Linked DNA regions of Homo sapiens. The protein of the gene in region 2 interacts with the protein of the main gene of each other region in a pairwise test. Each region holds a gene or a part of one and is shown on either strand. Other genes may lie near its edges.

Region 1 (4,955 bases), about 13 Mb from region 2:
GGAGGTGTGTGACTTTATTTCTGAGTTTTCTTTTCTGTAAGAGACACATTGGTCTGTGTGTCTGTTTTTATACCACTACCATGTTTTTTTGGTTATTGTAGCCTTATAGTATAGTTTGTAACTGGGTAATGTGAGGCCTCTGACTTTGTTCTTTCTATAAATGTATTTATTTTAATTTTTGTGAGTACATATTAGGTGTATCCATTTATGGGGTACATGAGATATTTCGATACAGACATGCAATGCATGATAATTACATCAAAGTAAATGGGGTATACATCACCTCAGGTATTTGTCCTTTCCTTAGTATTGCTTTGGCTATTCAGGCTCTTTTTGGATTCCATATGAATTTTAGAATAGTTTCTTCTACTTCTGTAAAGAATGATGTTGGCAGTTTGATAGGGATAACATTGAATCTATAAATCGCTTTGGGCAGTATGACCATCTTAACAATATTAATTCTTTCAATCCATAAACAAGTAATTTTTTTTCATTTATTTGTGTTGTCACTGATTTCTTTTCTCTATGCTTTGTAGTTCTCCTTGTAGAGATCTTTCACCTACTTGCTTAGATATATTTCTAGGTATTTCACTTTCGTTTGGCTATTTTAAATGAAACTGTGTTCTTCGTTTGACTCTCAGCCTGGATGTTATTTGTGTATAGAAATGCTACTAATTTTTGTACATTGATTTTGTATCCTGAAACTTTACTAAAGTCGTTTATTAGTTCTAGAAGCCTTTTGGTGGAGTCTTCAGGGTTTCCTATTTATAGAATCATATTGTCAGTGAAGATAGATAGGTTGACTTCTTATTTTTCTGTTTCTACATCTTTCATTTTTTTTTCTCCTTTCTGATTGTTCTGGCTAAGACTTTCGGTAATATGTTGAATAGGAGTTGTGAGAGTGGGTATCCTTGTCTTATTCCAGTTCTGAGAATAATAAGTGAACCATTCATTAAAATAAATATCTCTCTATATAGCTGCCTCTTTAGATACACATGTATGTGTATACATATGTATACATATAGATGCGTGTATATATATTTATACATACATACTACACACACATATGTATACATACACATACACACATGCATACCCTGTTGATGGTCCTGTTTCTCTGGATAATCCTGACTATGCAATATCCACTCTCCTAATTTCTTGTTCAGTCTAGGTACAAGGCTGTCAATTTTGTTTTCATTTTCAAAGAATCAACATTTAGCTGCATGGATTTTCTGTATTTACTTTGTTTTTTCTTTTATTAATTTCTGCTTTAATCTTTATATTTACTTTTTCTGTATGCTTTGGATTTAATTTGCTCTTCTTTTTCTATTTCTGAAGGTAGAAGTTGAGATTAATTTACTTAAGATCTTTCTTCTTTTCTAATATAAGCATCATAGCTATACATTTCCCTCTAAACACTGCTTTAGCCAGACCCCATAAATTCTGATATTTGGTTTTATTTTTATTCAGCTAAAGACATTCTTCTAATTATCTGTACGATTTATTTGTTAGCCTATGGGTTATTTGAAATGTGTAGTTTAATTTTTCAATTGTTTGTGTATTTCACAAATTTATTTCTTTGTTGATTTCTAATTGAACTTCATTGTTTTGGAGAACATACTTATCAATATTACACATACTTTCTTTTGGAATATTCAGTCTTCTCTGAAGCATTTGATATCTATAACTATGACTGGACTGTGGCAGTGATTAAGAAATCCATCCATAATGACCTATGAACATCTTCAGAAGGTGCTATGTTGGGATGGTTGGTTATTTCAGATTATGTGGTGTATCATGAATTGAATGAGGTAAATCTGCCCAATAAGTGCTCTATAAGGTAATGAAATTATGATGTGAATGAAATCTACAACTCTTTTGGTTGAATAACGTGAAAGAGGGTAACAAGTGCTTGTTCTCCTCTCATGCAACAGCCTCAGAAACCCAATGTGTCCTACAACACAGTTGGAAATCACTAGAGTACAGAATTCCCAACATACTGCCCTATTTCTAAATTCTATGATTCTAAAGTTCATCTAATACATAATATAGGTGAATGGGATTTTATTCAGATATTCTCATTCATGTGAAATTACCATCTATTTAGTGTATAGTAAATAATGCACTGGGGTAATTGCTTTTATTTTATTGTACTTAATTCTATAAGCCCAATGAAACAGGTACCATTATCATTATCTTATGAATGAGAAAAATGAGACTCAAGAATTTGTCCAGTGGAAGTAAACTACAGCTTCCCATAAAATGAGAGTAATATGACCTATTCCAGAAGAACTAAAGTTAGCAACAACAGTAGTTTATCATAATTTAACAATGGAGCTCATTAAATGACAACAACTGTCAAATTATATATAAAGTCAGTGCAAAAACTTGGATGCACATAGTTACATTCTTACTCTTCTAGGTAATGAAGATATTGTGTTGTTGAGATATTGTTGAACCAGAGTAGAATTAACATACTGTAAAAGTAAATGATGAGATATAATTAGTTTTGTTACCATCTTGGGGGGACTTGAGAAAGAGAAGGCACAATAAATAATTAAAATGAGTTTGTGAGTTAAGAGAGAATTACAAGCCTTCTGAAAACATAGGTAGCGTCTTTGTCTGTACTATTAAATATTTTCATCTCATTGTCCTGTTAGGATCCCTTAAGGAGGCAAGACTATTAGAAAAGGTGGGAGTCTCAGTACTCACAGTAAACTGCCAATCATAGAGATTTGTATATTGTAGCAACTCGCCTGTTGTTAAATCTCATCACCCACTCCCCCTCTTAGGCCAGCAAGTTTAGAGGTGTAATCAATTGTAATAGAAAGCAACTGTAGATTTCTGAATGCATAAGTACATTATCCTATCAGTTGGAAAAGGAGTGGAAAGTAACTGGAACACATTTATTTAAAAAAAAAAAAAAACACTGGTGAGGAAGCAACAAGAATTTAAAAACACATGGGAACTGGCTGTTGAGTAAGCAGTGCAGATCTGAATCTGAAACGGAATAAAGACCAAGAACCACTAAATTGGTGGAAATGAACTTACCTATTATGTGCTAGGAGCTGTCTGTCCTCTCCGTATCTTAGCATCTGGTATCACAACTAAAACATAATACATTTTCAATATATGATGTTAGACCCTGTTTTAGATGCTTAAAATTTATTATTTAACTTACTTTCACTATACCTCTATCACATATGTATTCATATGTATTATAATATCCACTTTACAAATGAGGGCACTTAAGTGCAGAAAAGATTCCTAGTCATACAGCTAATGAATGCAAGTGCCAGGATTTGGTCATAAACAGTTGCCCATAAATCCTTTTTCAACGAAACTATTCTACTTTACAGAGCTTTTTCTCCCCTATAAGAGCTTAATTAATACAACCACAACAAAATAAGTAACTCTTAAATAGTAACTAATTCTATTAGTTTCTCTAAAATAATACAACATACAACATAACAACTATAATAAAACATTAAATAAATGGGAGTCAGGTGTCTACTGGCAAATTTGTTAGCATTTAAAGGTTAGCTAGCTCATAGAAGTTGAATGTCAGTAGAGATATATTCACTTAATACATTTACACCTCAAGCATAACTTCTGTTTTGTCACCATATAAATCCCTTTGTTAAAAATACGACTGGAGCTGAAATGATGATATTTACGACTTTTATTCGGCAAAACTTAAAGCTTAATATTGGCATATAAGACTTTAAAGATAATTTATCATATATTTCTTACCAAAGCCTTATGAAAAGTTTTGCTGTTATGTGTGGAAATTTTTTTCTACCATCATAAAGACTATTCTCATTTATCACTATAAACAGAGTTGTACGCAATCAATATCTGTATGCAAGTTTTGCACTCCAAAGAAAATAAGCATTTTACCTCTCTTTTAATTTAGTTCTTTATTTGTATCTAAATGAAATTATAAGTACATTTGCAAAATGTCCTTGGCACTAACTGCAAAACTTGGGAAATTATTTTTGAGATTTCCTACAAATCATCACTTTACATTATTCATACCTAAATTAAACCAAGTACGAAAAAGTGCCTCAGACTACCTTTTTATATTACTCAAAATGCTGATGCAGAAGAACTAGCAAAGGAAATATCAATGAAGAAAATATTGTATCAGTAAACATATACTATATCCTAGAATGGCTGAAAACGTTAGCGCTTAAAAAAAAATTACCAATTACTTTTGAGAAATAAAATGTCTTGTGAGCTAATGAGAAAAAAAATGTTCAATTACACTAGAGGGTATTTCCAAAACTTTCCTAGAAGGCTGAATCATATGTTTGGTAATGTTGGCATTGGTTTTTATTACTTCTAAATAAAAATTTCTCGTTAATGCAAATACTATACAGATATTTTAAATTGGAAAGGAAAATAATCTGAAGAAATTATCTGGAATACTGCCTAATAAAAACAGAGATTAAATTATAAAAAATAAATTAAAAGATGTGGTGTATTGAGTGAGAAGGTCTCACATATATGTAACTAAAATCTCAATAGACTCTAGAAAATAGGAGTCAAGGAAATAGTCAAAGAGATAATTGATGTTTTTCCACAATTTTTGAAGACATTAAACTTCAAATACAGAAAGACCAACAAATTTTAAGTGAAATAAATGAAAACAAATGCACACCTAAACACATAACAGTGAAACAGCAGAATACCAAAGGCACACAGAAGATATTAAAAGAATTCAGAGGGAAAAGATAATTCACATATTGCAACTACACTGAGAGCTGACTTTTCAGCAAGGGAATGAGAAGGGATTAGGCCCACCAAGCTAAACTCATACGCCAAATTTAAATATTTTTCAAATGTGAGGGTGAAACAATGACATATTCAGACAATAGAAAGTTTGAAAATTTGCCACCAAGCAATGTAAGTGCCCACTGGAAGAATATTAATACATAGATTTTAGTGTATTC
Region 2 (3,968 bases):
CTGCCACACAGGATCCCGAAGGCAAGCCGAAGAAGACACACATCCAAGACAACCATGACGGCACGTATACAGTGGCCTACGTGCCAGACGTGACAGGTCGCTACACCATCCTCATCAAGTACGGTGGTGACGAGATCCCCTTCTCCCCGTACCGCGTGCGTGCCGTGCCCACCGGGGACGCCAGCAAGTGCACTGTCACAGGTGAGCCCGCCCGCTGTTGGCCGCTGCGGCGCTCGGCACGGGGCTTGGGTTGTGCCTGTGTGCAAGGGCTCGCTGCTTGGGGCGGCGTGTGGGAGTGGGGGCCGCCCCCTTGAGTGACTCACCTGACCTTTCTCCTTGCTCTCTGCCCTCTCACCTCAGTGTCAATCGGAGGTCACGGGCTAGGTAAGCTGCTTGCTGGGGCCACTCCCAATGCCCCTCCTGCCCAGAGGGGCAGCTTCCTTTCCTCTTGGGGCCGATTCCCAGGACAGTTCCAGCTGCAGCTCTAGGCAGGGACAGAGTTGGGTGGGGTGCAGAAGATGAGGCCGTGGGCTGGAGGGCGAGGGCCCAGGGAGGCTTCCGGAGCTGAGCATGACCGCTCCAGCTCTTCCCCTCTCTGGGCCTTTATTTCCCCATCTGAGAACTCGGGTTGCAGCTGAGAGCTTTGGGGTGAGGTGCATCCTGAGAGGCACCCCACTGGGGACTTTGGGGTCTCGGGATCTTGGCACCCAGGGAGGCACAAGGGCTCCTGCGTGGGCTGAGGGAACAAGGGGTCTCCCCAACTCAATGGGAGCCCCAGCCCTGGCCAGATCCACAGACCCCCATCCCCACCTTCCAGGGGCCTCTGCGTCCCGGGCCGGGGGAGGTGCATGAGCGGGTGGGGCTGGCTGGTAGTGCAGTAGCGCCAGTGTCGACTGCTTGGGCGGCCAGCATGGCGGGGCCCGGCCCAGCCTCAGAGCCCCAAAGTGCATTCTGTGGCCCGTCTCCCTCCTTCCCCCTTCCCCTATCCCCCAGCAGTGACGTTATTCAGACATTCCCCAACAGGCATGGAGGGTCACCTGCCCCAGCCAGGGACACCCAGGGATGCTGATGAGAGGCTACAGGCCTGGCACTTGGGCGAGGTGGCTAAGGAAAGGGTGAGAGGGTGGCTAGAGTTTTGCGGCAGGAGCGAGATGGCTTTATAGAGCAGGCCGTAGGATCCGATGTGTGTGTGACAGGCGTGTGTGCGCAGGGCGGGGGAGGCTGGGGAGTACTGATTGCAGGGCCTTGGGGGCTTTGAGGGTGGGAGCAAGACTCAGTAACCTCAGTTTCCCTGGCTACTGTTTGCAGAATGGAGACAGGGAGCCCGGGGTGGGGAAGGGGGCGCTGAAGTTGCTCTCTGGCAAGCTTGACGGCCACGGGGCTTCAGTGAGAGCCAAATTAGGAGGCATACTTTGAGGATGGAGTGGCTGAGACCTGCGGTTGGCTGGGAGCCGGGCAGGGAAAGTGGGGGCAGTCGGGTACCTGTGAGGTTGGGGCCCAAGCCACTAACTAGATGGCATGGGGTGCACATGAGTGAAGCCTCCCAGGGCAGCGTGGGCAGCCGGCAGCCAGGTCTGGAGCCTGGGAGAGCTGCCTGGCCGCGGCAGGCCAGCATGGAGCCTAGTGCAGCAGGAGCCCTCGGCCGATAGTGGGACTTGGTGGCAGGGCCCCTCGAGCTTGGCCTTCAAGTAGGTTTCGTGCTCCTGGCTGCTTCCCTGGCAGGAGGCCAGGCTGCAGGGGGCACTCTCACTGCCAGGCCTCACAGCCCACAGCCCCCCAAGCCTCCACGGCGGAGACCCAGATCATAACGTCACTGTCTCTCCCCTTTCCTCGGGCACTCTGGGGCCCTGGAGCCTGCTCAGCTGCTCTGCCCTCGCAACCCAGCAGTGGTGGCTGTAGCTTGGGCCTCCTGTTCCCTGTCTCCCTGGGTGCTATCCCCGCTCTGCCAAGCCTGCTGCGCTGCGCTACTCGGGTGCTAACCCCGCTGCCTCCCGCTTCCCCGCTCCCACTCCTGTCTGCACCGGGCTGCTTTTCACCGCGAGCCTTCTCAGTTGTCAGGAAACTCCGGTTTCACCATCAGGCCTGGGGGGTGGGGAGGCAAGTGTCACATCCCCCCACGCTGCAGCAGGACTCCGCCTCACCGCGTCCACACACAGCAATGGGGGCCGGGGCCAGGCCAGAAGGGCGCAGGCAGCCGTGTGCCCAGCCAGATGCTGGCGTTCAGCAGTGTGGGCCATGGTGCTGGACGAGGCTGAGTAGGCAAGGGAGTGGCTGTCAACACTTAGGCTGGAGTGGGCCCTTCCTTTTCCTCCCAGGCACCTGGGTGCTACTGTCGGGCCTCTCCCACATGGGCACTTGAGGTGGTCAGGAGAAACCTTCCTGCCTTCTGAGAAACCACTCGCCATCCCAGCTTGGAGGGGCAGGGCGGGGCAGGAGGCCTGGCGGCCTGGCTGTGCTTGGTGGTGGCAATGAGAGGCCTGTGTGGGCGGCAGGCGGACGGGAACAACCTGAACCCGAGCTCACACGCTGGCCCCCCTTTGGGGACCCACCCTGCCCCACCAGGTGCTGGCATCGGCCCCACCATTCAGATTGGGGAGGAGACGGTGATCACTGTGGACACTAAGGCGGCAGGCAAAGGCAAAGTGACGTGCACCGTGTGCACGCCTGATGGCTCAGAGGTGGATGTGGACGTGGTGGAGAATGAGGACGGCACTTTCGACATCTTCTACACGGCCCCCCAGCCGGGCAAATACGTCATCTGTGTGCGCTTTGGTGGCGAGCACGTGCCCAACAGCCCCTTCCAAGTGACGGTGAGGAGGGGTGGGGGGTAGGTCAGCAGGGGTGTCTGGCAGGTCCCGGCCTGTTCCCCTGGGGCCCCTCTGTGACAACAGACTCTCCAGCAGCTCTCTGCTTTGCCCTGCAGGCTCTGGCTGGGGACCAGCCCTCGGTGCAGCCCCCTCTACGGTCTCAGCAGCTGGCCCCACAGTACACCTACGCCCAGGGCGGCCAGCAGACTTGGGTACGGCCTGGCCAGCTAGGGACACTGGGGCTAGCCAGCTGGGTGTTCTGTGAGCCCCTAGTTTACCATGTGTGAGGAGGGACCCCAGATCCTCCCACTGTCCCTCACCCATGCCCTGTGTCTCCACTGCAGGCCCCGGAGAGGCCCCTGGTGGGTGTCAATGGGCTGGATGTGACCAGCCTGAGGCCCTTTGACCTTGTCATCCCCTTCACCATCAAGAAGGGCGAGATCACAGGTGAGTGGGGACTTGGGAAGGAGCTCGGGAGCCAAGGAGGCCAGACTGTGCCAATGAGCTGCCCTGACCTCAGCCCCACTGCCCCACAGGGGAGGTTCGGATGCCCTCAGGCAAGGTGGCGCAGCCCACCATCACTGACAACAAAGACGGCACCGTGACCGTGCGGTATGCACCCAGCGAGGCTGGCCTGCACGAGATGGACATCCGCTATGACAACATGCACATCCCAGGTGGGCCTGCCCTGCCTCTGCCCACTCCACCGCCACCACCTCACAGAGAGATGGGGCTGGGGGACACACGAGGCTGCCATTCCACAAGGCCCTTCTTCCTGCCTCAGGAAGCCCCTTGCAGTTCTATGTGGATTACGTCAACTGTGGCCATGTCACTGCCTATGGGCCTGGCCTCACCCATGGAGTAGTGAACAAGCCTGCCACCTTCACCGTCAACACCAAGGATGCAGGAGAGGGTGAGCAATAGCTCTGGTCTTGACCTGCTCTGTGCCCGGGATGCCCTCACCGGGGTAAGGGCTGGACTCAGGAGATACTCCTGAATGGGGCTCCCTGCCCTGCTGCCCTGGCCATCGGAGCTCCTCAGTGCAGGCCAACTGGAGTGTCCCCAGCATAGTTCCCATGCTCACCCACGGCTCTCTCCAGGGGGCCTGTCTCTGGCCATTGAGGGCCCGTCCAAAGCAGAAATCAGCTGCACTGACAACCA
Region 3 (4,955 bases), on a different chromosome or scaffold from region 2:
AAGAAGAGTAACCTTTTAAGATAATGACCCTATATTTTTCTTTAAATCTCCTGTCACTCTCCATTATATAGAAAAATTCAAACCACAATTCCACTCAGTGAAACTTACCAAAAAAATACTTTCCAAGGAAGTAATTTTTCAATCTCATTTATAAGTAGTATTTTTTAATATTTATTTTGCCATAGCTTCTGAAAGTACGTTATCTTTTTGTCTGATAATTGATGAATGGATAGGAAACATATTAAGGTAAATTAAAGCCAACTTAACAACCAACTGAGGATCCTAGCACACCATGGAGGAAGGGTTGTCCAAATCACACAGCCTGAAACTGGGACTGAGAACACTAGAGGAGCTACTCCTACTTTGATCATTTTATGAGAAGATGCACATTGATATAATTAGGTTTTAGCATAATTGCTTCTTTATAAATCATATTCTTTTTTCCTCATTTAGGCTACAGTCTTCCTTATTCATGTGAACATACTTCACGTCACCCCTCTTCTCAAAAACCTCCATGGATTTCTATCTCAGAGTAAAAGTCAAAGGCTGAAAATCAGCCTGTCAATCCCCTATGTCACCTGGCTCTTATGGCCTCTCTCAGCTCATCTGAATCCTCAGCGTCTGGAACAGAGCCTGGCAGATAGAAGGCACTCTCTCAACATTCAATGATTGAAAGAATAAAACATGGAGGTCTATTTACTTCTACTTTTTTTACCCTAGTTTCATCCTTTTCTTGTTAGTGAAAACTAACAGGCTCCTAATGCTCTGTCCATCTCCTCACAGCCCCTCTCCTTCCAGCCCTCTAATGCAAATCTATCTATTTAATAATAATCAAAGATGACATTATTGAGCCTATTCTGTACCAGGGAAATGTTCAATCACTTCTTATGTGCTTTTGAGGTAGATACTACTAGTATTTAAATTGTTTACATTAGGGAATCAAAGCTCACAGAGATGAAGCTAACTTGCACACAGTCACAAAGCTCATAAATGATGGAGCAAACTTGTGTTTCTTTGACTTTGGAGCCAGCATATGTCACCCTCAGTGTGATCCTGTCCCACAGTAGGAGGCTACTGAGCCCTCTCTGGTAGTTACGACCTCCAGATTTTCCTTACCTCTTTATCCTGGACTCATACTCTATCTTCTGTTTGGTCATTTCCTGTTTCAGGCTGGAAACTAAACTGTGCAGTGCACTGTGGTTGCTGCTGCTGTTGCCCACAAATGTCTCACTGTTGTCACTGCTACTGGTGGCACGACTACTTCGACCTCCCACACTCCTGTGGTCACTTTTGCTTTCATAGTCCCTGGGGTGGGAAAGGTCGTCCTGCGGGGGCCCATCCAAAACAGGGTCCTCAAAGTTCCCCCCAAAAAAGTCTTGCTCTGGGCAGGTGGTGGTAGAAGAGCGACAGGAGTTGGAGTTCTCAGGGAGGGAGATTTCACAGGAGGAAGTGGACCAGGTAGCACTGTCAATGCTCTGCTTGTCATCAAGGTTCATCATGGAGAACTGTTGATGGACATTATCATAGGTGGACAGTCTGTTGTGCTGGCCTAACTCTCCAGCTTGTTCTTTCTGCTTGTTATCCCTCAGGGTCACATAGCCATTTGGCAGCCAGCTCATGTTTCGAACATTTGTGGGGTTCCCGAGTGTGTCGCTGTTCAAAATGCCCATGCGCACCGTTCCATTCTGTACACTGTGCGTGCCCATTTTGGTACCAGATACCTTCAGTGAAGAGCTCCTTCTGGCCTGTAGGCTCCCATTGGGGGTGGTTTGGGTTTTCTCAAGACCTTCTGCATTACTGCTGCTGAAGGACCCATTGGTAACTATCCCACTACCCTTATTAAAGGCTGGGTTCTTTTTGACCATGAGAGGGGGGCTTCTAGACACATCTAGCTTGTGAACACTGTTCTTTGGGCTGTTGGTTTTGCTGCCTGATAGAGCTGTGGGGGATCCATTGTTCATGCTGCTTCTCTGGGGTGACTCAGACTTGTCCCAGGAGCACTGCCTACTAGGGCTGTCCTTGGTGTTATTGTTCTCCTTGTTCTGTAACTGCCCCATGGTGGCTTTCTTCTGAATTTCATTGTTGTTGCTCACTCCATCTTGGGGCTTGCTTTGTAGTTCTGCATCTTTGGGAAAGAGGCAATCATGTTTGCTAATCATCACTGACATCAACTGCTGGACCACCACAGTGCCTAGAATTGCATAGAACATAAAGTAGCATGAGTGAGACAGTTTTTATTTATTTCTATTTCAATGTGACTCTTAAAGAAACACATTCAAGAGAACATTCATTATTATTATCAGTACCAAACCATATTCTTAACTATGATAATAGCAATAGAAGCTAAAACATCTTGAGCATTTACTTTGTGCCATGAACTGTGTCAAGCACTTTGCTTTTGTAATTTAATTGAATTTTGAAATAAATCTATACATACATACTGTTATTATCACTGTATTATAAAGGTTAAGTAACTTGATTAAGGTTACACGTTAAGGACCAGACCCAGGGCTTGATCCCAGGGTTCATTAAAAACCTGGGCTCTTAATCATAATACAATGTTTATTAAAAATTTGACATTTAATTCTGAGAAATATTTCTTAGGAGGAGGTCACTGTGACCTCTCATCTAATAATTGCCTCAAACTATCAAGATATTTTAGTGGCATCTGTAAATGGAGCCCAATACAATCAGGTGGATGCATGGTTTCTCTAATATATCAAGATAATGAAAATCCATAAGACTTTTGTTCACCATTCAAAAACTTCAGGGCATTTTAAGCGACATCAGCCAGAATGGTGTAGTGAAGACCTCCAAAAATCCTCTTCACCATATAAGCAACTAGCAAAAATCTCCAGAATCAACTATTTTGGAATTCTGTAAATTAACTAATGGCTTGATGCAATCTGGAGAGTGTTTACTTAAGAAAAATGGCTGAATCTCAGTAAGAGCAGCAAGGTCTGTGGCGTTTTAACTTGCTCTAATCTTCTCCTCCTCTCCTAGAAAACCAACAGCCCAAAATCACAAAGAAAACCAGCTATCTGGCAGCCACTGGAATGGGCAGAGCAGGGTTGGATTTTATGTAGTTTCTATATAAAATACTTAAAACTTGAGATTTGGTGAAGAAAATGATGCAAAAAGGCTTTTGACAATGCATAATTTCATTACAACAGCAGCTAATTGAGAGGCTGTCAGGGAGTAGAAACCTGACCTGAGGCAAGGCCACTCTTTAGCTTCCGGTGACACCTGGGAAATATAATTCAAAATCAGATTTTGAAGAGGAAAAAACATATTATATTCATTTATATTCTACACACTTTTCTTGTGATGATTCAAAACTTATAATATTTTCGACTGCATATCAGCAATAAGCAAGATCTACTGCTACATCAATGTTATTCAAATTTTAAAGTTCATAAAAATTACCTGGAGATCCTGTTAAAAGGAAGATTGAAATTCAGTAGGCATTGGGTGGGACATGAGATTTTGCATTATAAACCAGCTTCCAGATAACATCAGCAATAATAGAATAGTAGCACTGGCATCACCTGGAAGCTGAAAATTTTAGCACCCAATGCAGAGCTTCTGAATCAGAATCCCCAGGTGATTCCTGGGTGCATTACACTTTGAGAAACACTGTAGTAGATGCAAATGTTTCCCTTATATCTTCCAAATTAAATTTCTTGAAAGTCCGAAAGAGAGGATTCATTTTTTTTTTCAGATGAGAAAATTGAGGGTTAGAGAAGTTAAACTATTTGCTCAGGGCACAGAGACGATGTGATCAAGGTGAAATGCAATATTTAGTCTTATTCCAAATTATGCATTTGTCCTACTATATTTCAGCTGCTGCAATTTAAAACCGTAGCAGTAATAAGTAAACTTGGGATAGTTTTAAAGATAAAGTTAGATAAAGATAAATATCTATTGAATTACCATCAATTATTACAGAATTGTGAAAAAAGACAATGTAATAATTGATTGTATTATATAGCCTTCTTTTCTCTTTTAGGAATCTCCGAATTTGTCATCATATTTTCCATGCATGTTAGCAGTGAATCTGATAAAAAGAATTTTAGAGCAGTTAGAATAACTGTCAAACTTGTGTACTGTGTTTGAAGACATTGTGTATTCAATGCTATTTTACTATTTGCCCACACGCAGACACACTTTCGGAGGTTTGCAGTTTCCATTATATATGACTGTCTAGTATTTTGGGAAAATGGACCTTTTTCCTATCATTGGAATGTTAACATTTGAAGTATCACTGCTTCCCGTCATAGCTATGAACTGTGTGGGAGCATGTAATTAATTGAAGAGCAACATCCTTAAGGTCTCCATGATGAGTTTGTGAACAGCCATGTCAAAGTGTACTTGTCACAATTATGGAGTATGAGTGTCAGGTCCCTAGAGATTTAAACTCTCTTGTATCTTGGGAAGCTTTGATTCCATCTAGTCTCTGGGACAATAAATGGCCATAGCCCCTTGTAAAGAGACTTTCTTAGAATTTTTATAGTTGTTTAGGACAGACTAGCTCGGCAGTAATGATGATGTGTGTGCCACTGTACACACTATCAGTTTTTCCTTTTGATTCCCTGTCATTTTCTTCTTAGAATGCCAATGAGGAACATGAAGCCCAGATAATGAGGTCAGACTGGTTATAATCACCAGCCCATTCTGAAGAGTCCAAGCAGATTCTGGAGTTCCACTGTGCTACACGATCCAGCAATTCTTCCCTGAACCATATAATTTTATACAGGTTGACTCTAAATATCACATAATAGGCACTTTTCATCATAAGCATTGGCTAAAAATTTGATTTTTCTTTAAAAAAAACCTAGGGACTTTAAATATAATATGTAAATGCAAAAATATATGTAGATGACAGCATTCTGTGCAATATAGTTTCAATTTGTATTTTTTGCAATGAATAACTTTGTACATGTGTCATTTTGCAT
Region 4 (2,581 bases), on a different chromosome or scaffold from region 2:
CCTGCCCATAGCATGGAGGGAACTTCCACTGAGCCTCCTCTGTCCACTTCTGGCGCCTCTCACTAAGCCCTTTGCTCAGCCTCCCACAGGAGGAAAAGTTTATTGGGCGGGTCAGTGTCGACCTTTCTGCACCTGTCTGCTGGTGGGCTGGTACTGTGGCTGTGCTTGTGGGTATAGCTCTCCTTTTCTGCCCAGTCTTCCTGCTCCCTGTCCCCACAGAGAGCACCCTCAAGGCCAGCCCACTGCACATCCTCTGGCTCCAGCTCCTTGCCCGTGTGCCTGACTGGGAAAGGGCATTCCAGGGCCTTCCTGCAGATCTAGCCACACCTGGCTTTCCTGGCAGAACACCTGGGTGTGCAGCATGGGTTTTGTGTTCAGGGAATTACTCTTCGGATTTGACCTGGTAGTGTGGATCATGTGGATTATCAACATTTACGAAAGTATATTTACGAGAATATGGTGAGCAATAGCACCATCAATGAAAAGGCATTGAGAAGACATTTTTTTTTAAAACAAAGTTCACTTTATTACATTAATTTTACACACTAAAATAATATGAAATGCAGACTTGTTTAAATTCTCTTGCTGATTCTCTTGAAGACAATGTCACCCAATGTCATGGTCTGAAAGCCAGAAAAGAAATTATGAAGTGTTCATCTGATGTTGTATTGTAAAAAACAAAATTAAGCATAAAAAACAAAATTAAGCTTAAAAAACAGCACCAAATATGTTGGCATATGAAACAATTCAAAAATTCGTCTGGTTTCCTGTAGGACCGGAGGAAAGGTTGGCAATGTTTTCCAAAATCCTATGCCAAGTCTTTGTCACTTCTCCTCCTCACCTGGAAAGTCCTCCTGCCTTTGACTGAATTCTTTTCTACATCAATGACTGTTATAGCAAGACCATCCAAACCAGCCCAATCTAATTTCTCAAAATTTCATTGAGTACCTACTATGCACCAAATACATGTTGAGCACCAAGGATACATGTACATGGACACAACTAGGCACACAGCCTGGAAGGCAGTGGGTAGTGCATAATTGTCCTCCTATAGCTGTGAAGCATATAAAAACAGTGGATGCATCAGCTTTTGAGTTTTTAAGGATGTTTCCTCCACCCCTGCCAGTTCTCTTGAATAAGACTGCTGGAATGACATACCATGTCATCAGGGTGAAAAGGAGCCCCTCAGTTTCAGCAGCAATGCAATAGTTGCTGCTTGATGGGTTTGAGCCCTGGATTTAACATTTATTAGCTGATGACTTGGACAGGTCAACCTGTCTATTGAATCCCTCATCCAGCCTCCCTCGAAGGAGACAGGAGGATTAGGTGAGATGGAACCTATCAAAGGGCGTTGGCCAGGACTTACTGCAGGATAGCTCATCTCCTGCTCCCCTGCTCTCCTGGGAATGTGCTGGGGCGGAGGTGGAAACTGCACATTGGGTGGTTGATGCTCACACTCTCTCTAGTTTAAGAATTTTTCCATTTGAATAGAGTGATGACAGCGCCCTGAGGCAGTGTTCTGTTGTCTGTGACTCCCTAAAGCATATTCTGGGGGCAAAGAAGAGTCAGGGGGACATACCTGCAGGAGAAACACTGCACCATTCACCCCCAAATAGGGTACAGGATGTGGCTGGCAGCCAGGCACCAAGGCTGACTGCATAACTGGACTGTGCCAGGCTTGTAAGCTGCCATAATATGACCATGAATGGGATTCTCTTTATAAACGCTAAATGGGCAAAGGCATTTATGAAGCACCCTGGGCATGCAGGGCAGGTGGAGGCCTCTGTGGCTGGTTGGTTGCGCTGAGCAGAAAGGATTAGTGATAATGTGTGTAAACTGCCTGGGACATGATGGATCCTCAGTAAGTGCTGGCAGATACTGACCACAGGAAAGAAGTTTGGGGGTTGGAGGGTGGAGGGGTGGCATTAGGGTATGTGAGCCGCTCCCCATGCTTCACCTCCCCTCTCCCCTCAAGCACTGGGAGCCACACGCTCAGAGCACCACCAACTTACATTGGTGATTATGTCGCCGTTGAGTTCGGTCACAGACTTGATGTTTTTGAAAGTTGTCACCAGTTTATTGTCACCTTCCAACTGAACCACTGTCTGCAGGGAACAGAGAGGTGACCTGTGAGGAAGGGGTGGTGGGGGGCAAGAGCCTTGCTAATGAAGTTGCTTCCTTTGCACAGGTCTCAGCTCATAACAACCAAAATGCTCTGGTTCCTATGATCCCAAGCCTCTAGTTCTCTGGCTCCAAATAGAAGTGAGGTGCATTTAAGAACTAAATAAAATGTCACGACTTCTTTTGTCAGAACTTTAATTCATGGCATGTGATCTAGAAATGAGCATGGAACACCTAAGTGGCCCCAAATACAAATGCTAAAATCAAATCAAGTAAAATCTCAATTCTCCCAAGCTAATGGAGGGAGGTAGTGGCAAAATTCAAATATTGACCAGTAGAGAATACATATTTTGCTTTGGTATGTATTCTTCTTTTTTTTTTTTTTTTAATTGAGATGAGGTCTTGCTATGTTGCCCAGGCTGGTCTTGAACTCCTAGGCTCAAACAGTCCTTTCACTTCA
Region 5 (4,955 bases), on a different chromosome or scaffold from region 2:
GTCATCCTCCACGTGACAGGTAACTGCAGGCTGCCAATCACAAGAGTAAACTGGATAACCCTGTGTGTCGTCTATGTTAGTGTGTCCCTAATGTACTGGCTCCTCACACAATAACTGTGGTGTTGGCACCAATGGACATCATTCTCATGTGCCTAAAGAAAAGTGCCGCCGTTTATCTTCCTGCACCTCCTGCAAAGCATCTCCCACCAAGTGTATCTCCAGTCTGATCACCATACTTGTTTGGCTAATACCACTGCTAGGTGAAATAATCAAATTTTCTGGAGCGTTTAATATATTTGAGAAGCTTGGTAAATTATCTGTAGTGGATAAGAACAGATTTTTGTACTCTAGAAACAGATGTTTTCAACATAATATGCAGCAAAATTATTCTATGCCTATTCCCTCCTAATTTAAGGGCGTGCAGATGAAGGCTGACATCGGCATAGAAATGTGCTAAATTTCAAATATGGTTGTTCAATAATATATTTTTAATTGTATTTTAAAACATCCCTTTGTAGGGAATATCAGTAGAACTATTGAATTGATGTTGTATTTTTGCATTAGCTGTCCTTTAATTTTGCTTTCCATGTCTTGATCTTGTTACCGAAATGCATTCTGTGTAATTTCAACGTAGACTACGTTCCTGAGTCTGATGATGTCATTGTAAATAATCATTCCTCATGTTGCTCTCACGGGTTTGACATTGGAGGATAGATGTGCCATCAACTTTAAATAGAGTTTCCATCTTTTGTCAGCTCTGCATGTCATACAGCAAGATGGAACACAGGTTGCAAGAAAGAACCAACGTTATTCCTGACATTCTATTGATGTGTTTTGAGCAGCAATGTGTAACCAGGTGTTTCTGCTTCTAATCTTGATTCTGCTGATGACCATTTTTATACTTTATGGCAAAGCCTCATTGCCTCAGTTTCCTGTCTGGAAAATGAGTTCATCATCTACCTCTTGGGCAATTGAGAGTTTTCATTTTGTGTCTTTTAAACATCTGGAAAATGGAAAACACTGAGGGCTAAGGATAATGATATTGTTTAATGTAATTTGTCATCAGACCGGCCTCCTGCTCACTATTTCTTTTTTTTTAGATGCTGTTTTTTTAGAATATTAAATTAAAGGAGTGCTGTTAATATGTAATCTTCAACTAGTTCCATGGAGGAAAGTGATGTTTTATGAATTAGAGCTTAAATTCCTATCTAATTTCTGAAGACTGCATTCTTTTCAAAGACTTGAAATTAAACTCAGGAGGATACATTTTGTTTGTTCTAGGGGGAAACGTAATAGAATGGTATGAGATGAATTCTATCCTTTTACAATAATTATTACTATAATATTGAAGTATTCTATGCCTTTCTGAAACACTTTATTCAGAAAAGATCATTTTTTGGCTTCCTTTTAAAAATAAGCTTGAAGTAGGGAAGCATTTGCTTCTTAGATTTTAAATGTAGTCTTATTATGCTGAGGAAAATCTTTAGTTGAAAGAATAATTCATTACAGATTTTTGATGAAGGGAAGAAATTAATTATGTTGCTGGAAGACTGTCTACAAATAATCAAAATATTTAAATGTAATGTATTCAAGTTGTTATTAAAAAGTTACTGAATGTTATCTGAAGATGTGAAATGTGTAGTCAAGTAAAAAGTTGGCGTATACTTTCTTGGGCTGCATATCCAATTTAATTAAAAAATTAAATCTCAGTTTCCTTCTAAATTTTGATAGAACTATATTAAAAGCTTGTATACACAGCATTCTAGGAAATTTCTCTTAACTATCTTTTTTTTGTTTTTTTTGTTTTTTTTTTTTTTTTTTGAGAAAGAGTCTTGCTCTCTTGCCCAGTGCAGTGGTGCCATCTTGGCTCACTGCAACCTCCACCTCCGGGTTCAAGCAATTCTCCTGCTTCAGCCTCCTGAGTAGCTAGGATTACAGGCATGCCTACCTAATATTTACATTTTTAGTAGAAACCAGGTTTCACCATGTTGGCCAGGCTGGGCCTCAGCCTCCCAAAGTGCCAGGATTACAGGTATGAGCCACCATAGCCGGCCTCTTGTATCCTTTTTGTCCAATTTCAAATAATGTGTGAATCTTGCCTAACTGCTGTTGCCCACGTTGAAGCTAAAGAGTAAAAACCTATTCATGAACAAAGAAGGCAGGTGAGACCCGGTAACAAACTGTCTCTCTTCCCACTTTCTCTTTCTTATTAATTTGGCAGGATCTCCCTTCCCATTTTGTCAACATGGTTGAATTTGTGTGTTGGGGTTGTTAGGGCATGGGAATTCCTGGTTTGCTTTCTCTATTGCATGCTTGTTCATGTTAACTCTTTGGGGAGCAGAATGAGATACATATGCATCCATGGTTATGATGGAAAAAAGCATGCAAAATCCATTTTTAGAGAGAGAGAGAAAGAGAAAGGTGGGGGTGGGGGAGCACAAAGATCAGAAGAGTACTATGCTGATATTCAAGATATAGTACAGATAGCTTTCTGTGTACCTATCCATCTACCTATTCATCTGGGCTATTGATTGACTCCCACAGCAGTAAAGAATAATTACGCAGTTATTCTTCTGGTTATGTTTTAATTTCAAAAAGTTAAGTGTGATTTTCCTTTTTGCTGGGATTTCTGTCTTGAGCAAATAATTATTCTTATGAAAGTATCAATTGCAGTTACTGGTTAAAAATGTAAGACCTAGGAAATTTAAGTGTTGTTTCTATTTTAAGGTATATACATAATTTATAACCATTTACTTCTAGAGAAAATCCTGAATGGTTAGTAATATCAAAACATTTTCAACAAGAAAACTAAAATGAAAAGAAAGTTTAAAAATTACATGTGTTACAGCTCTTTTAGAATTTGTCTAGCAGGTTTTCTGGTGAAAATTAAACTCAAGATTTTCACCAGAAAACGTTTTAAAACTTCTAAACTCTTAAACAAATTATAAATACTTGATACTTTGAAGAACTGCAAAACAAAATGTTTTTAAGTTTTCATAAGGCAAAATCATTGAGTTTTCCAGCTTTGATTTTCCAATAAAAGGATGTATAAATATTTGGTGGTAGTTTTTCACACTCAATTCCAAGAGAAATTTACTGTAGGAATCTGTACATTTGAATCTCTGAATATTCTATGATATTTAAAATATTTGAACAAGATGCAGAAAATTTTTTAGCTATATTAATCAATAATGGTAACCTCTATCACTCATAATCAAGACACATACTTAAAATAGATGACTACAAGACCCTTCTAACTGCTTTGCTCAAATTTAAATTTCCTCAAGTAGTTCATAGACCCTTTACAACCTGGCCTCCCCTCTCTGGCCTCGGTTTGATCCCCTCCTATTACCCCCAACCCCTAGTAAAGTGACATTTAACTTCAGGGTTTTAACATATCATGCTCTTCTCTCCAGCCCTTTCTTCCTATAACTCTCTTACTATCTTCACCACCCTATCTTCATGTGACTTAACTCTTGCTTATGTTCCAGTTCTGCTGAGACACAACTTCCCCTGGGAAGCCTCCTGACCCATCAAGTCCAGAGTAGATGGTCCTGCCATGTGCACTGTCAGCACCTGCACTGCCCAGCCACGCCCCTGAATATACACAAAGGAATCGCAGGTTTGAGCATCAGTCTCCTCTGGCTAGGCTGTAAGAACCTTATCAGCAGGATTCATGACAGCCCTGTTGTCATTGTATTGCCAGTACCTAAGACACAGTCACACTCAGTAAACTCTTTTGAATTGAATTGTTGCCAAAGGTAAACAAAGATAAACCTAGCTTGTTTTTCTCCCCTTTTTAGAGGGAGGAGAGGGGAAATGTAAAAAGACAAAGATGATTCTCCCTTCTTATAGACAGGAGTCAATCCGAATCAGGCCCTAACAATGAAGCACTCATGAAAATCTCTCACCTCATCTGCAAAACTTGTGTGAGAACCCTCCAGACCCTCTGGGCTAGACCCTGATTGAAAATTTGAATTTAAAAATAGATGCTGGCTCCACGGACTAAAATAATAGTAAGGAGGAAAGAGGAAAGGTCCAGGATTGTTGTTCCTGGATCAATATTGTTCCAACATTTTAAAGTGTTCCAACATTTTAAAACATATGTACTTAGGCATAAATCATCATCCGGTATGAGGAACTGGATGCCTCCACTCTCTATGACTAAATCCAAACTGTCAAAACCAGAATTTATGTACTTCTTTAGAACACTACGTAAATGATCAATATTTAATTGTAGCTGGGGCTCAGTAGTCTGGGCTGTGAACAGATCTTATTTGAAACCAGTATTTCATACAAACTTGTAAATATAAAGAAAGCCAAATCCAAGAACTTAAGAGTATTTGAATTCCAAATGAAGAAAGGAAAGAATATCTTATTTTGTTCTGCTTTATGTTTGTCTTTATTCATGACCATTTCTTACTAAAAATCACCATCTGAAGCTTTTGAAACTCCTGTTGTATGCACAGCATTTTAAGTGCAGCCATGAAATAAGTTAGTTGAAACAAAATAAAATATCTCCTTCCAGTATGCTCTGATATTGTGTCAATGTAAATGCCAAGGCATGACAGACTGTTTTCCATTTATAATAAGCGGAATCTTGAGTTGCATTGGAAAGCTAAAAGATTTGCGTTGACTTAAATGAAAGTGTCCTTTTTAAAGCAAAAACAATTCATTTTCTCTGTGCTTATCACAGGAGATGAGATTTGAATGTTATCAGTTGTGCATGAATTCAACCTCAAAAACAGGAAGCACACAGCTGTGATTTTGGCCTTTTTCCATGAATCTCCACAGCACTGTTCCTTTTGATGGTGAGAGTTTGTATAACATCATGAACCATCTGAGCATCAGTGCAGGTTGGAGGCATGACCCTCCTCAGGGTGAACAAGCCTTTGTGTTGAGAGTTTGAGCATTTGGCCTGCTCACTCTTCCTTCTGTTCAACAGCAGTTTCATT
Region 6 (3,671 bases), on a different chromosome or scaffold from region 2:
CAGCAGGCATCTGTAGGGAATCCCATGAGTAAAGCAGGGCTCGGGTCTTGAGGCGTGCTTCTGTCCGTGTAGACCAGTGGAGGCCTCAAGATTCGTCCTCGAGTTGATGTGAACCTGTGTTGGACTCAGCCTCTCTGGCTTCCATCCCCCCTTCCCTGTTAGGGGCCATCCTCCATCAAAGCAGGCAGCCGGTGGTTTAGAGTGTCCCGGATCTTGGGTTCAGATCCTGTCTCTGCCTCCTACCAGCTGCATCCTACCAGTGTGGGCAAATGACTTAACCTCTCTGTGCCTTACTTTCTCCTCTGTGAAGTGGAGATGCGGTTGCATCCATGTCAGCGGGTAGGGATGGCATGCAAGTTTTCATATGCAATGTTTCCTACAGAGCCTGAAATCCAATGAGTGCTCTGAATTAGCACGCATAGCATTCCCACTAGTGTTAGCTTAACCACTGCCAGACCAGGGTGTGGACCTCAAGAGGCTACCACCAGTCCTGACCATGGCACTCTTGTGACACATCCCCTCGGAAGACCTGTCCCCAGCAGCCTCTGGGGACACTCCCTTATCCCCTGCCCCCACCAACTCCAGAGCCTGGGAGCAAATTCTAGTCTGATTTTCCAGTCTGACTCACTGTCCCCTGGCTGCCGAGTGTTCCCTTTAACACACTCACTATCTCCATGGAGCCCCATGGGCCTCTCCAAGGGCGAGATGGAGAGAAACAGATTGTAAGGTGCGTCCCAGCCGCCTGCTCCGCAGTGGCAGCCAGGGCCCTTCTCCAGGGATGCTGTGGGTTGAGGGGCTTGCCAGAGCTGACGACCAGGATATGGAGCTGCAGATATGCACGCCATCCAAAGTGCAGATGCCCGGGCCCATCCAAGGAGCTGCCCCCCAGATCTGAGTCCCCAGGTAGGTCCCAGGCCTCTGCATTTATTAATTAGCTCTTGGGTGGAGCTGGCGTGTGGAGGTGGTGTACGCTTAGGCTGTCTACAGGGGTGGGGGCTGAGTCCTTCTTTGTTCCTTTGATCAGGGCCAAGGCCAGCTCCTTAGGGCACAAGCTCCGAGTGGAAAAAAAGTGATGGCCACACAGGAAAAGGGGCCTGGAGACCCATCTTCCCCTTCCCCAACCCCAGCGGGAGCTGAAGGTCTCACAGACAGAAAAGGAAGTCCCGTTGGGTTTGCACAGTTTATTAAGATAATCAATCAATTTCTTAAGTTATTCCTTTGTTAACCAGACAGCATCTCTGGAGAGAAAATGCACTCTCTGTGTAGATACATAAAAATACATCAGTCATTTTGCCCCTCCTGGATGTGAACGGAATCTCCCCTCCTCACCTCCACAGAGGGAGCTCAAGCCCCAGGGAACCTTCCCCTCCCCTTTTATGCATTACCAGGGGAGTGGCAGGGGCAGCCCCCAACTGTGGAGTGCATTCAGGTCTGAGGGGGGAGGAAGGCTCAGAGGGGCATCTCCCCAGCACCCTGCCACAGTGCTGGCTTCTGGGGTGTTTGTTCAGCGGCCTGCTGGGCTGCCCCAGGCTGGGGGCTCCCCCAGCTCCCCGTGCATCCTGGCTTGTTCCACGGAGCCCTGAGCCAAGTCTTTGTCTGGCTCATGTTCCTCTCACAACATCCCACAGGCAGGGGTGAGCCTGCCGCAGGAAGGAGTAAGGTGCTGTCATTGCGGAATCGATTGCGCACAGGAATGCAGGCTGAGGGCGGCAGCCCGGTCCCCTCAGTGTCTCTTTAAACCGACAGCTGAGCTCCGACTCCCTCGAGTTCAGACCCGGCCTCACACAGGTGGCAGCATTTCCGAGAGCTTCACCGCCTCCACTGGGCACTTGGTTTTGACATCAAGGGTTCTCGTCCTGGAGGTGGTGCGTGGATGGGTGTTAGCTGGGGACGCCCTGCAGGTGAGGCTCCAGAGGCTGAGCACCAACCTTTCCATTTCGACGGGCAGTGCCCCAAATCTTTGACACTGGAGGGCACGGGACACTGGCAAGGCCATGGCTCAAAGTATTTCTAGGCCTTCCCCGCCCCCAGTATCACCACCTCCAGCGCTGGCATCAGCATCCGGCCTTTGCCCAACCTCCTGGCTCAACATCCGCCAGAGGTGGCTCAGCCACAGCTCCAGACCTCTCGGTGCAACCTGCATGTGTGCGAAAAGGCTGTTTTGGAAATACCCCAGGCCAGCAGCAGGGAAGAGAGGTACCCCTCTTCCCTCACACATGGCCTTGGCCACCAGCCTAGGACACATGGGGTGGCAGGGCTCTGGGGGAGTGGCAGCCGTCCCCACCGGCTGAGGCTGGGATGCCTCTGTCCTCACACTGCTCGGGGCTGTTCTCTGCTTCAAGGGCACTCCATGGACCCATTCTTTTCCCCTGACCCTGGGGGTGGCCACCACCTAACAGTGCATGCCCCTACCGCCTTGCCAGCTTAAGTGCTAAAAAAATAGATGCTTTTACTGAGTCCTTGACACCAAAACAAGGAGACCACCACCTAGCCTGTAGGTCAGGGCAGGCAGCGGGGAGCCGCCTCCTTCCACACGGGTCCTTGGTCTGGCAGCCTCCCTTCCCGCCTCCTGCCCGAGTGCCAGGCCGAGCTCATCGTGTCCATCCTCCCGGCTTCTCCCCAGGGCTCCCGGCTCCTCCAGCACCCCGGGCCGGCCCCAGCCCCGTCAGAGCGTGGCAGGGCCCAGGAGGCTGGGGGCAGGGTCCTGGCAAAGCTGCAGCTGCACGCTGGCGGTGAACCAGCGGCTGGGCCGGCCCAGGCTGCAGTGCAGGGTGGTCCGGAAAGTGCTCCTGGCATGCTTGGGGAAGATGATGGTGGTGCTGCGGAAGCGCAGGGCGCGCGGGCGTGGCTCCAGGGTCAGCTGGCTGCGGTAGTTGCGCCACGTGCAGTTGGGTGCTGCCACGATGGTCTCGCTGTAGGCCGTGACGGTGGGTACGGGCGCATAGAAGACCTTGTCCTGGAAATGCTTCTCCGAGGCGTACTTGACCTCAGAGTTGCAGCTGGAAAGGGCAGGAGGGAAGCGGAGTGAACCCAGGATTGGGGGCAGCCCGATTCCCTGCCCTCAGCATGGACACGAAAGGGCCCTGGGCAGATGCTCTGAAGCCTAACGGGTGTGGGCTGCTCTGAAATGTCAAGGTCAAGAAGGTCAAAGAAGGACTGAGGGACTGTCTTGGCTTCACAGAGACTAAAGAGGCGAGACAGCTAAACGCAATGAAGGACCCTGACTGGATCCTGAACTGGGGAGAAAAGTAAGCCAGGAAAGGACCTTATCGGGACGATGGGTGAAACTGAGCCGTGTCGTGTGGGTTAGGTGCTGGCGTCACCGTGTGCACTTCCCTGACGTTGACAACTATGCTGCTGTCATGGAAGAGGATGTCCCTGTTCTTAAGAGACACACTGAAGTATCTGGGGGCTAAAGGGCAGGATGTCACCAATCTCCTCTCAAATAGGGCAAGATATAAACAACCAGTGAATCTGTTTGAGAGGCACATGCAACCTTTTTTTTTTTTTTTGAGACGGAGTCTCGCTCTGTCACCCAGGCTGGAGTGCAGTGGCGCGATCTCGGCTCTCTGCAAGCTCCGCCTCCCAGGTTCACGCCATTCTCTTGCCTCAGCCTCCCGAGTAGCTGGGACTACAGGCGCCCGCCACCATGCCTGGCTAATTTTTTGTAA
Region 7 (4,955 bases), on a different chromosome or scaffold from region 2:
ACAAGGAAATGTAACAATGATAGAGAAATCAAACCACCATCCCCTAGATCCAGGGGCCAATTATGAACGTCATTAATGACGAGTCATATTAACAATATTATGGGTTGCTTGATGTGGCCCAACGTGAAATACATACATAATATTACCTAAAATGTATTCTAAACAAAATGTTTAATATCAGTCATTTTATTTATTTTATTATTTATTCATTTATTTTGAGACAGAGTCTTGCTCTGTTGACCAGGCTGGAGTGCAGTGGTGCAACCTTGACTCACTGCAACCTCTGCCTCCCAGGTTCATATAATTCTTCTGCCTCAGCCTCCTGAGTAACTGGGACTACAGGCACCCACCACCACTCCCAGCTAATTTTTGTAATTTTTTATTTATTTATTTATTTATTTTTGAGATGGAGTCTCGCACTGTTGCCCAGGCTGGAGTGCAGTGGCACGATCTCGGCTCACTGCAACCTCTGCCTCCCCAGGTTCAAGCGATTCTCCTGCCTCAGCCTCCTGAGTAGCTGGGATTACAGATGCCCACCACCAGGCCTGGCTAATTTTTTTGTATTTTTAGTAGATACAGGGTTTCACCATGTTGGCCAGGCTGGTCTTGAACTCCTGACCTTGTGATCCACCTGCCTCAGCCTCCCAAAGTGCTGGGATTACAGGCATGAGCCACCGCACCTGGCATAATTTTTGTATTTTTAATAGAGATGGGGTTTCACCATGCTGACCAGGCTGGTCTCAAACTCCTGACCTCAAGTGATCCACCTGCCTTGGCCTCCCAAAGTGCTGGGATTATAGGCGTGAGCCACCGTGCCCACCCAATATCAGTCATTTAAAATCTACAGTCTGGTTTACAGGAAATTAAGGATAAGGCTGGGTAATAAACCAAACGATACCGGGAGTAAACAACCAGGCAAAGTTGGAAAGCGGGTCATTGTGCAGGACAACTGGCAGTCTCTTTAACAAGCCAGCATCGTGAGGAAAAAGGGACCCCTTGGATTGTAATAAAGTAATGCTTATGGTATTATTTGGCTTATGTAATAAAGTAATGCTTATGGTATTATTTGGCTTATGTAATAAAGTAATGCTTATGGTATTATTATGGTAACTGTATTAAGGCAGTTACCTATCAATGATAATCCTTACCTGAACCAGTAATTACATTCGTGCCATAGAATACCTATAACTCTTATCATCTCTTCAACATTATTACATGAAACTATTTGTAAAGTCATGCTTTCCATTGTTAACTTGCAGATAACCAGATGCAACGTGAAGATCTAGACTGGACCCTGGTTTGATGAACCAGCTGTAAAAACACATTTCTGGAACAACTGGAGAAACCGGAGTATGCCCTGGACTGGATATTAAATAAAAATTTATTGACATGTAAAGATGGCAATTATTAACAACAACAAAAAACAGATTATAAAACATTTCATACAACACGATTGTATTTTGGCAAGCAAACACACACACACACACATACTCTCACACAGGAAACGACCTGGAAGAATATTTGGTGCTTTTATTTTTTAGATTATTTGTGTTTCTGAAATTTCTACAATTAATAAATACTGCTTTAAAATAATCAATGGTTATTTGTAATTTTAAAAAATCAAGGATTTCCATTCAATGCTAGATGCCACAAGTGGGTGACATTCTAAGAAAAAATATTGGCGATATCTACATTGACTAGAAATTTTTATCTAGAACAGACTTTTTCAACTGAAGTTCCTCATCTGAATCTCAAAAACCAGCAAATATGGCCAGGCACGGTGGCTCACGCCTGAATCCCAGCACTTTGGGAGGCCAAGGCAGGTGGATCACTTGAGGTCAGGAGTTCGAGACCAGCCTGGCCAACATGGCGAAACTCCATCTCTACCAAAAATATGATAAAATTAGCCAGGCATTGTAGTGCACACATGTAGTCCCAGCTACCCGGAAAGCTGAGGCAGGAGAATCACTTGAACCCCAGAGAGGGAGGTTGCAGTGAGGTAAGATCGCGCCACTGCACTCCACCCTGGGCGACAGAGCAAGACTCCACCTCAAAAAAAGAAAAACAAAAACAAAAACAAAAAAACAGCAAATAATTTGAGTGTTTTCTGAACTTTGCTGAGAACAGTAGGTAAATAGTCCCATGCTACAGGCTTAGAGGTTAATTTGTTATGTATATAATCCATGCCCTAGGGAATGTATAAGACATACCCATATGCAGTAGGGCTTAATTATCCCTAGGAACTAAACTAAAATATGCAAGGATCTCCTGCTAAGCAACATGAAAAAGAAAAAAGCAGAAAATCTGGTAAAGAACATGAATAAGCAATTCACAGGAAGGGAAACAAAAAAACACTAGTGAGTATATGAAAAGATGCTGAACCTCATTAGTAATCAGAGGCATGCAAATGAAAATGAGATCACGCTACACTCATTGGATTGGCAAAATTAGAAAGCTGGATGATGCCATGTCTTGATGAGGACATGCAGAAATGTAATCTCTTATGCACTGCTCATTATGAGGATAAAGTATTATAACCATTCGGGAGAGCAATTAGATGATATTTACTAAAACGCCGTTTGCAGGTGTCCTGTTATCCAGCAATTCTACTCCCAGCTACAATGACAGGAGACTGGCACAGAATCAGAAGGGAGCATGTACCAGGATGCTCATGGTGACACGGTTTGTAGGGGCAGGAACTGGAAGGCAATCTAGGTCTCCAACCTCAGGGGAATGTATGAACAAAATATGGTGAATGAACACCGCAGATTTCTCTGCAGCTGTTAGAAGCAAAGAACTAGATGTACTTGGAGCAGCATGAATAGATCTTGAAAAAAAGTGCTGAATTAAAAAAACACAATGCAACAGAAACTGATTCACAGCTTCAATGCCATTTATGGACATTTAAAATGCACACATATGCAGAACAATGCTTTAGCTTTTCGAGCATATGTATCAAAACATTAAAATTGGATGGGTGCCCCTGGGAAAAAGGAAAGTAGGCAGGGGACTGGGAATGAAGGGAAAGAAATAAAACTAAAAGACAAAAGGTTTGCATAGACCAATATTGATGAAGTGCCACACACTGAGGAGTGTGCTGAGCTGCGTGAGGTGCAGAGGGAACCTGGAAAGGAGAGAGCAGGAGTATAGAAAAGTACAGCTCTTGGGAGGCTGAAGGTCAGATAGTCAGGTAGCCTGGGGTCAAATCTGAGCTCTGCTGCTTCCCAGCTCTTTCACCTTGGACACGTCTTCCAAGCTCCCTCGCGTTTCTTTTTACGTCAAACAAGGATACAAGATGTATACACAAGCAGATAGCAGAATTGCTCCTGACACACAGTGGGTACATGATGACATTAGTAAATTTAAAACTACAGGCCGGGTTTTAAAACTTTAGTTTTAACATTAGTAAATTTAAAACTACAGGCCGGTGGCTCACGCCTGTAATCCCAGCACTTTGGGGGGCCAAGGCGGATGGATCACGTGAGGTCAGGAGTTCGACACCAGCCTAACAAACATGGTGAAACCCCGTCTCTACTAAAAATACAAAAAAGTAGCAAAGCGTGGTAGCAGGCGCCTGTAATTCTAGCTACTTGGGAGGCTGAGGCAGGAGAATTGCTTGAACCTGGGAGGCAGAGGTTGCGGTGAGCCAAGATCACGCCATTGCACTCCAGCCTGGGCGACAGAGAGACTCTGTCTCAAAACAAAACAAAAATGCTACAGAGCAGGAATGCACTTCCAAGATCTAGTACAATGAATGTTTCTCAAATGCAAGTGGTAATTTATTAATGGGTCATGAAATAAGTAATGGGTCCCAAACAGCATTAAAAAGAAAGATTATCAGAGTACATTTCACTAAAAGTATCTTTTTATAGAACTGTTATTTCAGTTATATATAATGAGTACTAAAATGCATTTTTTCCCTATGGCAGGCAATCAAAAAGTTTGAAAAACATGGATATTGTCCAAAGGAGTTCTACACCTTTGGGCTTCAAGAACCAGTAAGTATTCCCTGAGACAAAAGTTGTTCAGGGAGGCAACCTTTTAATCTATAAAGGGCATTCAAAAAGAAACTTTTATAATCTTCTCTTACTATTGTAACATAAAAGAAAGGACATTTTTAACATTGTAAAAATAGAACAGAATAACAGGCTTTATGTAAAACTCACTACTTTGTACTTATTTTTCTCCCTTCCCTGTCTTTCGGAACCCGAGGACAGAATCCCAGAGGTAGGAATGGACTCACTGAAGGTCACTGAGTCAGCTGTGACAGAGGTGACACAGAACCCTTATGTCCTGGCTTCACTTTCCAAGCTCTGCTCCTCAGAACCCTAAGGGGTCCACAAAAGTGGAGCCTAGCAGGTGGGGTCTCTAGAATCCCCAACCCTGTTTTACTGGGAGTGGCCCTGCTTCTGTGAGATTTCATTTGAATAAAGAATTTCACTGTTTAAAAAAAAAAAAGAATTAGAAAGCTCCTGGGGGGCGGAAGCCATGGGAGAATGCTGCCTCCCAGGATAGGGCCAGATCGCAGAGGTTATTATATTTCAATTTAAATTTAGATGTTTTTCCCTAGTGACATGAGGGAGCTATTTAGGATTTCTAAGCAAGAGAGAGAATAGATCGGGGTTGTGCTGAAAGATAATTACTCAGGTGCGAGTGTAACAGCTGGACTGGCTGCATAGGAACAGTGGGAAGTAGAGAGCAGCTATTTAACCATTGCAAAGGTCCTGGCATGAGGCTGGGGTGGGGGTGCTGCCTGAGGCGGCAGGGATGCAGAAGATGGCACCTCAAATTCTCTGGGGTTATGGCCAGCCAAAGCCAGGCTCTCCAAGCCATACCCCATATCTCCTTTTTTCTGCTCTAATACCTGCTTGGGCAGCTCTCCCAGGAACATAGGCATGGGGACTCCGAAGGCCCTCACCTGCAGCGCCAGCTGGCAGTCCTCAATCAGGCCCTGC

What was found.
Region 1: the proteins of FLNA (region 2) and MAGEC3 interact in binary tests that used the Homo sapiens proteins (3 or more experiments, as listed by UniProt).
Region 3: the proteins of FLNA (region 2) and ARHGAP24 interact in binary tests that used the Homo sapiens proteins (3 or more experiments, as listed by UniProt).
Region 4: the proteins of FLNA (region 2) and FABP1 interact in binary tests that used the Homo sapiens proteins (3 or more experiments, as listed by UniProt).
Region 5: the proteins of FLNA (region 2) and CCDC141 interact in binary tests that used the Homo sapiens proteins (3 or more experiments, as listed by UniProt).
Region 6: the proteins of FLNA (region 2) and RFLNA interact in a two-hybrid assay, tested with the Homo sapiens proteins (2 studies listed by BioGRID).
Region 7: the proteins of FLNA (region 2) and KCTD13 interact in binary tests that used the Homo sapiens proteins (3 or more experiments, as listed by UniProt).

The regions. Positions count from the first base shown.
Region 1 is NC_000023.11:141,844,179-141,849,133, reverse strand, and holds part of MAGEC3 (melanoma-associated antigen C3), read right to left. Parts: intron 1-4,955.
Region 2 is NC_000023.11:154,353,667-154,357,634, reverse strand, and holds part of FLNA (filamin-A), read left to right. Parts: intron 1-11; coding exon 12-201; intron 202-360; coding exon 361-384; intron 385-2,562; coding exon 2,563-2,810; intron 2,811-2,923; coding exon 2,924-3,019; intron 3,020-3,151; coding exon 3,152-3,254; intron 3,255-3,343; coding exon 3,344-3,484; intron 3,485-3,591; coding exon 3,592-3,720; intron 3,721-3,907; coding exon 3,908-3,968. UniProt on the Homo sapiens protein: Promotes orthogonal branching of actin filaments and links actin filaments to membrane glycoproteins. Anchors various transmembrane proteins to the actin cytoskeleton and serves as a scaffold for a wide range of cytoplasmic signaling proteins.
Region 3 is NC_000004.12:85,991,819-85,996,773, reverse strand, and holds part of ARHGAP24 (rho GTPase-activating protein 24), read right to left. Parts: intron 2,192-4,955; coding exon 1,117-2,191; intron 1-1,116. UniProt on the Homo sapiens protein: Rho GTPase-activating protein involved in cell polarity, cell morphology and cytoskeletal organization. Acts as a GTPase activator for the Rac-type GTPase by converting it to an inactive GDP-bound state.
Region 4 is NC_000002.12:88,122,482-88,125,062, forward strand, and holds the end of FABP1 (fatty acid-binding protein, liver), read right to left. Parts: intron 2,106-2,581; coding exon 2,013-2,105; intron 624-2,012; coding exon 573-623; 3' UTR 501-572; downstream 1-500.
Region 5 is NC_000002.12:178,829,332-178,834,286, reverse strand, and holds the end of CCDC141 (coiled-coil domain-containing protein 141), read left to right. Parts: coding exon 1-114; 3' UTR 115-3,491; coding exon of another isoform or gene 3,492-3,529; 3' UTR 3,530-4,530; downstream 4,531-4,955. UniProt on the Homo sapiens protein: Plays a critical role in cortical radial and GnRH neurons migration during brain development. Regulates cortical radial migration by negatively controlling the activity of histone deacetylase 6 (HDAC6) and promotes centrosome maturation.
Region 6 is NC_000012.12:124,313,520-124,317,190, reverse strand, and holds the end of RFLNA (refilin-A), read right to left. Parts: intron 3,000-3,671; coding exon 2,666-2,999; 3' UTR 1,167-2,665; downstream 1-1,166. Other genes in the region: ZNF664-RFLNA (refilin-A), read right to left, coding at 2,666-2,999. UniProt on the Homo sapiens protein: Involved in the regulation of the perinuclear actin network and nuclear shape through interaction with filamins. Plays an essential role in actin cytoskeleton formation in developing cartilaginous cells.
Region 7 is NC_000016.10:29,918,272-29,923,226, forward strand, and holds part of KCTD13 (BTB/POZ domain-containing adapter for CUL3-mediated RhoA degradation protein 1), read right to left. Parts: coding exon 4,919-4,955; coding exon of another isoform or gene 4,865-4,918; intron 3,691-4,864; coding exon of another isoform or gene 3,583-3,690; exon of another isoform or gene 1,260-3,582; intron 1-1,259. UniProt on the Homo sapiens protein: Substrate-specific adapter of a BCR (BTB-CUL3-RBX1) E3 ubiquitin-protein ligase complex required for synaptic transmission.